Regions from separate parts of the Homo sapiens genome. Here region 1 is reported to be linked to region 2. Evidence: microRNA targets listed by miRTarBase, many of them from high-throughput screens and not tested one by one. Region 2 holds a microRNA gene; the other region holds the end of a gene's coding sequence.
What was found. The annotated mature microRNA hsa-miR-5585-3p reads CUGAAUAGCUGGGACUACAGGU and lies in region 2 at 1,972-1,993, shown strand. An mRNA with a match to its seed (bases 2 to 7 or 8) in the 3' UTR can be bound and repressed. Matches are read on the target gene's strand: a 7mer-m8 pairs with bases 2 to 8, a 7mer-A1 pairs with bases 2 to 7 and ends in A, and an 8mer does both.

Region 1: miRTarBase lists PPARGC1A as a target of hsa-miR-5585-3p. Seed matches in the 3' UTR shown: 8mer at 3,444-3,451, 7mer-A1 at 2,716-2,722 and 7mer-A1 at 1,738-1,744.

Annotation. Positions count from the first base shown.
Region 1 is chr4:23,791,894-23,796,236 of GRCh38, forward strand. It overlaps PPARGC1A (PPARG coactivator 1 alpha), which reads right to left. Exons shown (of 13, transcript NM_013261.5): 13 at 128-4,032. The coding sequence ends at 3,929. Among named protein-coding and RNA genes, the nearest start is that of PPARGC1A-AS1, 25 kb to the left of the region's middle.
Region 2 is chr1:32,085,015-32,089,416 of GRCh38, forward strand. It overlaps MIR5585 (microRNA 5585), which reads left to right and starts at 1,935; the gene lies at 1,935-1,993. The region is part of intron 5 of TMEM39B (transmembrane protein 39B); the gene reads left to right.

The sequences.
Region 1 (4,343 bases), not on the chromosome of region 2:
AATATGGAAAAGCAAGGAGAAAGGGAAAGAGAGCCAGAGAGGAAATAGAATAATAATAAGCGAGTAATGGGTACTGATCTGAGAAACATGCCAGGAGTTTGGTTACGATAAATAAGAAAAGCAGAAGTAGATTTGAAACATTCGTTTCCCTTTATTAGCTCAGTGAGGCTGATGTGTACTGCACATTTAAAAAAAATCACAGGAATTTTCATACAATGAATAAAACCACAACAATACATGTAGAATTGGCAGGTGGAAAAAAGGCCCGGCAAGGGCTCAACTAATCGCTCACTTTCCCTCTTCAGCATAGTTCAACCAACAGTATTACACTTTCACCTACAAATCTTAAAGTAGCTCCATCAAATCAGCAGTTCACATTATTGAAAATGTCTGTCACATAGGTACAAATTTAGAATCATCACATTATAGTACATGGCTATTCTAGGTCATCTATAGATCAGGTCTTAGACTACAGTGATTGAAGTTCTCATTACAGCCATCAAGAAAGGACACATAATCATTACCTACTGGAAGCTCACATCTAAAGGCATGAAAAGGTTTCCTTTTATCAACTGACCCAAACATCATACCCCAATAGTGCAAAGTTCCCTCTCTGCTGCTTTGAATGTTGACAGCCCAACTGTTGTTCTCGGAGTCGTTTAGCAAAAAATTGATTTTGTTGCACTGGAAGAATTATTCTGCTACATCTCTTTTAAAAAAGAAAAAAATCCACATTACTAAAGCACCAGTTCGGTTACCAAAATTGTAGATGTGGTACTTACCACGGCATGAAGGCAATGGCCCACGGTCTTCTAAAAATCCTACAGATCTATGCTGAAATTTGCCTCCAGTGATGATGGGGTGCACGTGTTCATTTGAAATATTCTCTCCCAAAAAAATAAAAATAAAAATGAGAGGAGCACAGCTTACATTTTGATGGGCTACCCACAGTGTCTGCAGAAGATACAAAAGCTCCACTAATTCTAGATGCAATTTGAAGTCCATTGAGGAAAACTATCTTCATGGTAACAATATTTGTCAGGCTGGGGGTAGGGGGGATAAATTAATCCTCAATATGATATCTGTAGTGCTGTCTTTTGATAAGTAAGAAAAGAAACCAAGTATTCCACTCATGTCAACAATCCAGGGCAAAAAGGAGAATGTATTTAAAATTGGTTCACAAAAATTTAAAGGCAAAATAGAGAACACATGTGGTCCTTGAACACATAATAGGATTTACTAAATCTCGATTTCTTAAAAATAATTTATTGCTCTTAATAGTCTTTTTATTATTATTCTACAACAGAAGATACTCAAAATTCAGAAAGAAAGACTGTAAACTTTAGTTTGGCGTTCACACAGTTAAAATACCTGCATTTAACCTACAGAACAACAAGAATTAGGCGGATTAAAGATGTGTTACTGTTGTAACGCAGAACCTGTGAACAAGTTCTTTCATTTCATAGTATTTTTATTGCTTTCTATCTACTTAGAAATAAGAAGCCAAAAAATCAAGCAAGCATCCGACAGGACAAACAGTGGATTCACTCAGAACACAATATGCTGGTGATAAATGAATGCAGCTATCAAAATTAGCTGCATTGGCCTGGGGGTGAAATCCATCTTACAAGATCGTGTTGGGCGAGAGAAAGGAAAAGAACAATTGAGTAGTAGGTGTATCATGTCTTCCAGAAAAGTCATGTCAGCCAAACAGTAATCGAATCTCAATTTAGAAACTTGAATACACACTCCAAATGTTACTGAATTCCATTCCAGGGACTCCACACTCAGATGAAATCCTGATGATCAAAATGGAGGTTTTTCTGAAGTTTTTATTAAATTTAGCAGAAGCAATGTCATCAAGAACAACACCATGGTCACGTCAGAGGCCATGCTAGTGCAAGTAGAAACACTGCTTCTGCAAAAGCTGAATTTCCCAAATGAAGCACTTACACTCCAACCTGACAATTGTCATGCATCCTAGGTAGAAAATTTCCACTGGCTTTATTATTTTCATCATCTCATAATTTATAATAAATAGGCTATCTGCAACTGATAAATATGTCTCTTTAGTAAACAAAGGAATGAAATATCAGTATTTATACAGGATGCATAACTGTAAAAAATACAGATAAATACCATCGTCATACTCTGCCAAGGGAAAGAAATACTGGCTTCAAAGATAGTCTTCAGACACACATTAATTATTGTAAAAATCATACTATAATTATTACCTCAGCATTTTGTATCAAATTAAAATCACAAAAATTAAAACAAAACAGCATTTTAAAAAGATTTTTGACTTCTAGTTTCAAAACTACTGTTGATAGAGAAAATAAAAACATTTCTTAATGGTTACCCATTGAGAGACTTTACATAAAATCATGATATCTTCTAGAAAAATTTTAGATGAGAAAATTTCATTCCCCTAACAAATCCAGTGTATAAAACTTCAAAGAAAAACAAGCGACAAGAAAATGTGGAAAAATATCGCAGAAGTGGTTAATACCTTTAGGGGACTAGGATATTTCTTGACAAGATGCTTAGATTGAAGCTCACCTAAGGGATGGATGTGCGGAAAGCATCATTTTGCTCTTGTTGCACTCAACAGACACACACACTGTCTTTTTGTTTTTACAATCAAATATATATAAGCAGTAAGTTCAGCTTCTAAATATGTTAGTGTACAATAATTGTTTCACCTCATAATTACATTTGAATATTCTTGATTAAGAAAAATTTAGCAGTTTTGAAAAGAAGGCTGCATTTACAGTGCATAGCTGTAACAAAAAAGAACATTGTTGTATAGTATATACATAAAATAAAAATACTCCATTTAACATCTGTAAATACTTAACTACATCAGAGAATGTAGCAATTACACTATCTGAACACATCTCAGAGAGTTCTACCCAACTCTCATTAGTAATGTAACCCGGTGTCCGCTCCTCAGAAAGAACCGCTGAACAAGCTGCACGCTTGACCATTGACAAGGCTTTTGAAATTTGCAGTGGAAGATCAACATTTTGGACATTTACATGGGTGTCAGGATTAAGGATGAACTACAGAAACTTCAAAATGTTAGGAAACTTTAGCATTCTGGTGCCCGCAGTATCCTCTCCCACCCAGATTCCATGGCAAAAGGAAAAAGAAAAAAAAAAGAGAGAGAGAGAGAGAGAGAGAGAGACAGGATATTAGTTCTATGGAACCTGTGGTTTCTTCAGGATTGTCATATAATCATTACGTTATGAGAGAAAGCTTGCTTCAAGTTGATTCTGCACTTTCTTAAAAAAACAGAGTACAAAGGCTGATGCCCAGACATCAGCGGCTGTCATTTTAGGGTGGTTTGTGGTTGGTTGGTTGGTTGGTTGGTTGTTAGTTTTCTTTCCTTTTTAATTTATATATATATATATATATATATATATATATATATATATTTCCTTTTGAATAGAATACGAACATTTTGAAGTTCTAGGTTTTAAGCGTGTCTTCATGGAACTGCTGCCATTTGAAATGGTTTGCCCTTGCGCATTCTGGTCAGGTGCCCCCAGTCCTCACATGTACCCACACATACTTCCCCTAAACCAAGCACACACACCACACACATACATACACACACACATACATGCACACACGCACACTCCATCACCAAGAGACTCCAGGAAAAGCAAAGCTGACACCCATGAATAAACATGTGCTTACTGGATATCATTCTGTCTCTTGCCTCTTCAGCAGCTGTGTTCATGTAAACCATTGTTGTTATTGTTGTTGTTGTTCTTGTTGTATTGTTGTTGTTTTGTTTTGTTTTTGTACAGAGAGTGTAAAGTAGGAGAAATTCCTAAGTATGACTTGCAATAGTCTTTAGGGAAGGACGCGCTGTCCCATGAGGTATTCGCCATCCCTCTGTCATCCTCAGCTAGGGAACATGTTACCTGCGCAAGCTTCTCTGAGCTTCTTTCAGTAAACTATCAAAATCCAGAGAGTCATACTTGCTCTTGGTGGAAGCAGGGTCAAAGTCATCTGAGTTTGAATCTGAAAAAAAACACAAGCCAGTTTAGATACACACTTTGCTGATGGCCATTAACTCAATCATTCCAATTCAAGATTACTGGATTCGATAACAACTCTTCCAATCAATATACTTTAGAAAACAATAGTCAGATTTTATTGGATATATATGGATATATAGGAAGAGGATGGGGAGTAGTGAGCTTTCAAAAACACGCACCTGTTGACTCGTTTAGGCTTAAACACCCTGGGAGTTAGGCAGAGCACACGTTAATATATCTCTGGCAGATAACCACCCTCCCCTTCCCCCGACACGTCAAATGACTTGCCCATGG
Region 2 (4,402 bases):
TCTGAAAGCATTGAGGAATATTCTGTTTATCTTTTGATTACTTGAAATTTCAAAGGATGTGTCTGTTGTGGGACGTTTGTCATTCATCCTTTCAGGACTCTAGGACTTTTTTAACCTGGAGATTTGAGTACTTCTTTAGCTTGGGGAAATTTTCCTTTGATATTTCTTTGATAATATCTTCCTTTTAATTTTTTCTATTATCTCTGGATTTCTGTTCATCAGATGGTAGACCTCATAGATTGGTCATCTTTTTCTCCTATATTTCTCTAATATTTAATCTCTCTCTCTCTCTCTCTTTGTATGTGCATTGCCTTTGGAGAGATTTCCTCAACTTTATCTTCTAGCTTTTTTACTGAGATTTTTTCAGCAATCATATTTTTCATCTCTAAGGCCTCTATGTTTGCTGATTGTTCTTTTCTCATAGCATACTATTCTTGTTTTAAAAATCTCTTATTTGGCTGGGCGTGGTGGCTCACGCCAGTAATCCCTGCACTTTGGGAGGCCAAGGTGGGTGGATCACAAGGTCAGGAGTTCAAGACCAGCCTGGCCAACATGGTGAAACCCTGTCTCTACTAAAAATACAAAAATTAGCTGGGTGTGGTGGTGCATGCCTGTAATCTCAGCTACTCGGGAGACTGAGGCAGGAGAATTGCTTGAACCCGGGAGGTGGAGGTTGCAGTGAGCTGAGATTGCGCCACTGCACTCCAGCCTGGGCAACAGAGCGAGACTCTGTCTCAAAAAAAAAAAAAAAATTCCCTTATTTTCCTCAATTTTGTCTTTTCACTGGGGTCAATTTTTCTGTTTCATGCTGCTTGTTTTCCAAGTATAGTTGGCTTGTTTGCTTGTCTCTTTATATGTAAAAATGAAGGACTGAGTAGCAGGAGTGCAGTTTCTTTCTCTCTGTCATTGTTTAAGGGGGTAAGAGCTTTGACTGGAAACTTTAAGTACATGGGCAGGGCACACTGACTGGCAGGCTTTGCTTTGAGGATGAGTGAGTGAAGTGCTGGTTGTTAGGCTTTGAGCCTCCGTAGGCCAGAAAGGGAGTGGTGGGGGTGTTACTCTAAGATATCGCCATTAGAGACCTCAATTCTCAGTTTACTCAATTTCTTTAGAAAAGAATCCTTCAGGGTGTGTTGTATGAGGTGAGTAGGGGAATAAAGGGACTGACTCTTATAAATAAACATAGGTCATTGTTTAATCCCATTTATTCATACCTGCTCCCCACTTCATCTTCTATCATATGTGCCCACTTCAAGGCAGAGTCTCTCTTGGGTCACTCTGGGTAGATAAGCTCCCACCTCCAGTCCAGTTCGCTCATGCCATATTCTAGACTTGTACCGTCCAGTTGAGTAGCTACTAGCCCCCCTGGTTATTGAGCACATGAAATAGGGTAGTCTGAGTTGAGATGTGCTCTAAGTGTAAAATACACACCGATTCTGAACCCTTAGTACACACACAAAAAAGAAAGTAGGCTGGGCATGGTGGCCCATGCCTGTAATCCCAGCACTTTGAGAGACTGAGGCAGGCGGATGGCTTGAGCTCAGGAGTTTGAGACCAGCCTGGGCAACTTGGCAAAATGCCATCTCTACCAAAAATACAAAAATTAGCTGGGCATGGTAGCCTGCACCTGTAGTCCCAGCTACTTTGGAGGCTGAGGTGGGAGGATGGCTTGAGCCTGGGAGGTGGAGGTTGCAATAAACTGAGATTGCACCACTGCACTCTAGCCTGGGAAACAGAGCCAGGCCCTGTCTCAAAAAAAAAAAAAGAGAGAGAAACTGAGGCTGGGCACAGTGGCTCACACCTGTAATCCCAACACTTTGGGAGGCCAAGGCAGGGTGGATCAGGCCCAGGAGCTTGAGACCAGTCTGGGCAACATGGCAGAACCCTGTCTCTACAGAAAATATAAAAATTAGTTGGGCATGGTGGCACGCACCTGAAGTACCAGCTACTCGAGAGGTCAGAGGATTGCTCCTGAATAGCTGGGACTACAGGTGTGTGCCAGCACCTGAGCCTAGGAGGTAGAGGCTGCAGTGAGCCATGATTATGCCACTGCCCTCCAGCAGCCTGCGCAACACAGCAAGACCCTGTCTTAATTAAAAAAAAGAAAGTAAAACATCTCAAAATATTCATTATATGTTGAAGTGATAGTATTTGCATGTATTGGGTTAAGTAAAATAGAATCTTAAAATTAATTTCAGGAGGCTGATGCAGGAGAATCTCTTGAACCCGGGAGGGGGAGGTTGCAGTGAGCCGAGAATGCACGACTGTACTCCAGTCTGGGGCACAGAGTGAGACTCCGTCTCACAAAAAAAAAAAAAAAAAAAAAAGGCCGGGTGCGGTGGCTCACACCTGTAATCCCAGCACTTTGGGAGGCCAAAGCGAGCGGATCACCTGAGGTCAGGAGTTCGAGACCAGCCTGACCAACATGGAAAAACCCCGTCTCTACTAAAAACACAAAATTAGCCAGGCGTGGTGGTGCATGCTTGTAATCCCAGCTACTAGGGAGGCTGAGGCAGGAGAATCGCTTGAACCTGGGAGGCAGAGGTTGCAGTGAGCCGAGATCATGCCACTGCACTCCAACCTGGGCGACAAGAGTGAAACTGTCTCAAAATAATAATAATAATAATTTCATCTCTCTTTTTTTTTTTCTTTTTTTTTTGAGACGGAGTCTGTCACCCAGGCTGGAGTGCAGTGGCACAATCTCTGCTCACTGCAAGCTCCGCCACCCAGGTTCACACCATTCTCCTGCCTCAGCCTCCCGAGTAGCTGGGACTACAGGCGCCTGCCACCACGCCCGGCTAATTTTTTGTATTTTTAGTAGAGACGGGTTTTACTGTGTTAGCCAGAATCGTCTCAATCTCCTGACCTCGTGATCCATCCGCCTCAGCCTCCCTAAGTGCTGGGATTACAGGCATGAGCCACCACACCTGGCCCATCTCTTCTGTTTTTTAATGTGGCTAAATTATGTGACTCTGGTGGCGGGCGCCTGTAGTCCCGGCTACTCAGGAGGCTGAGGCAGAAGAATGGCGTGAACCTGGGAGGTGGAGCTTGCAGTTAGCTGAGATCTCGCCACTGTACTCCAGCCTGGGTGACAGAGCCAGACTCCATCTCCAAAAAAAAAAGCCAGGCACGGTGGCTCATGCCTGTAATCCCAGCACTTTGGGCGGCCGAAGTGGGCGATCACGAGATCAGGAGATTGAGACAATCTTGGCTAACATGGTGAAACCCCGTCTCTACCAAAAATACAAAAAAATTAGTCGGGTATAGTGGCGGGCGCCTGTAGTCCCAGCTACTCGGGAGGCTGAGGCAGGAGAATGGTGTGAACCTGGGAGGCGGAGCTTGCAGTGAGCCAAGGTCTCGCCACTGCCCTCCAGCCTGGGTGACAGAGCCAGACTCCGTCTCAAAAAAAATAAAAATAAAAATTATGTGACTCATCTTTCTGTTGGAAAGCGATGCTCTAGACCATGACTGCTTCTTCGTCTGTCATCATGTCTCCATCTGCTTTCTAAATTTGTCAGAATCATTTGTGCACTGATGACCCTCACTCCCATTTTTTTTTTTTTTTTTTCTGATACAGATTTATTTTCTACTTTGATAGACTCACATGTAGGGTGGAGGAGGTGGGAGGGAATCTGCTATCATGCATATGAAGCTGCTTCTAACTTCTAACCTGTCAGAGCAGTCTGTCACCAAATAATTTAATTGATCATAGGACCTATCTGCAGTCCTTCTTAGAGACAAAGCCAGCGAGATTCTTTAAGTTTAAGCTGGAGACCTTTGTATGTTCACATAGGTGCCCCCGCCCCCTCATTACCACAAGATACCCTGAAGAGTATTTCGGGAATGCCATTTTAGTCTTTTTTCCTGTCCCCATAGAATCACTGGCCTCTTCCTTTTCTAGTCAAAATTCTATTGATCATCTATTCTGGGCCAGAAACTATGCTAAGGGTTGTTGTAGGACTAAAAGACAGTATTTATGAGAAAACTAGTGTAATACCTTGCTGAGAGTGGGATCAATACAAGCTATGTAATTTAGGGCAAGTTAAGGAAACTGAGGCTCATAGAGGTTAAATAACTTGCCATAAATCACAGAGCTAGTAAGTGGCAGAGCTGGGAATTTTTTTTTTTTTTTTTTTTTTTTAGACAGGGTCTCATTCTGTCACCCAGGCTGGAGTGCAGTAGTGTGATCTCAGCTCATTGCAGCCTTGAACCCCGCTAGGATCAGGTGATCTTCCCACCTCCACCTCCCAAATAGCTGCAACTATAGGCATGTAGTCTGGCTACTTTTTGTATTTTTTGTAGAGACAAGGGTTTCGCCATCTTGCCCAGGCTGGTCTTGATCTCATGGCTCAAGCAGTTTCTCTACCTCTGCCTCCCGAAGTGCTGGGATTACAGGTTTGAA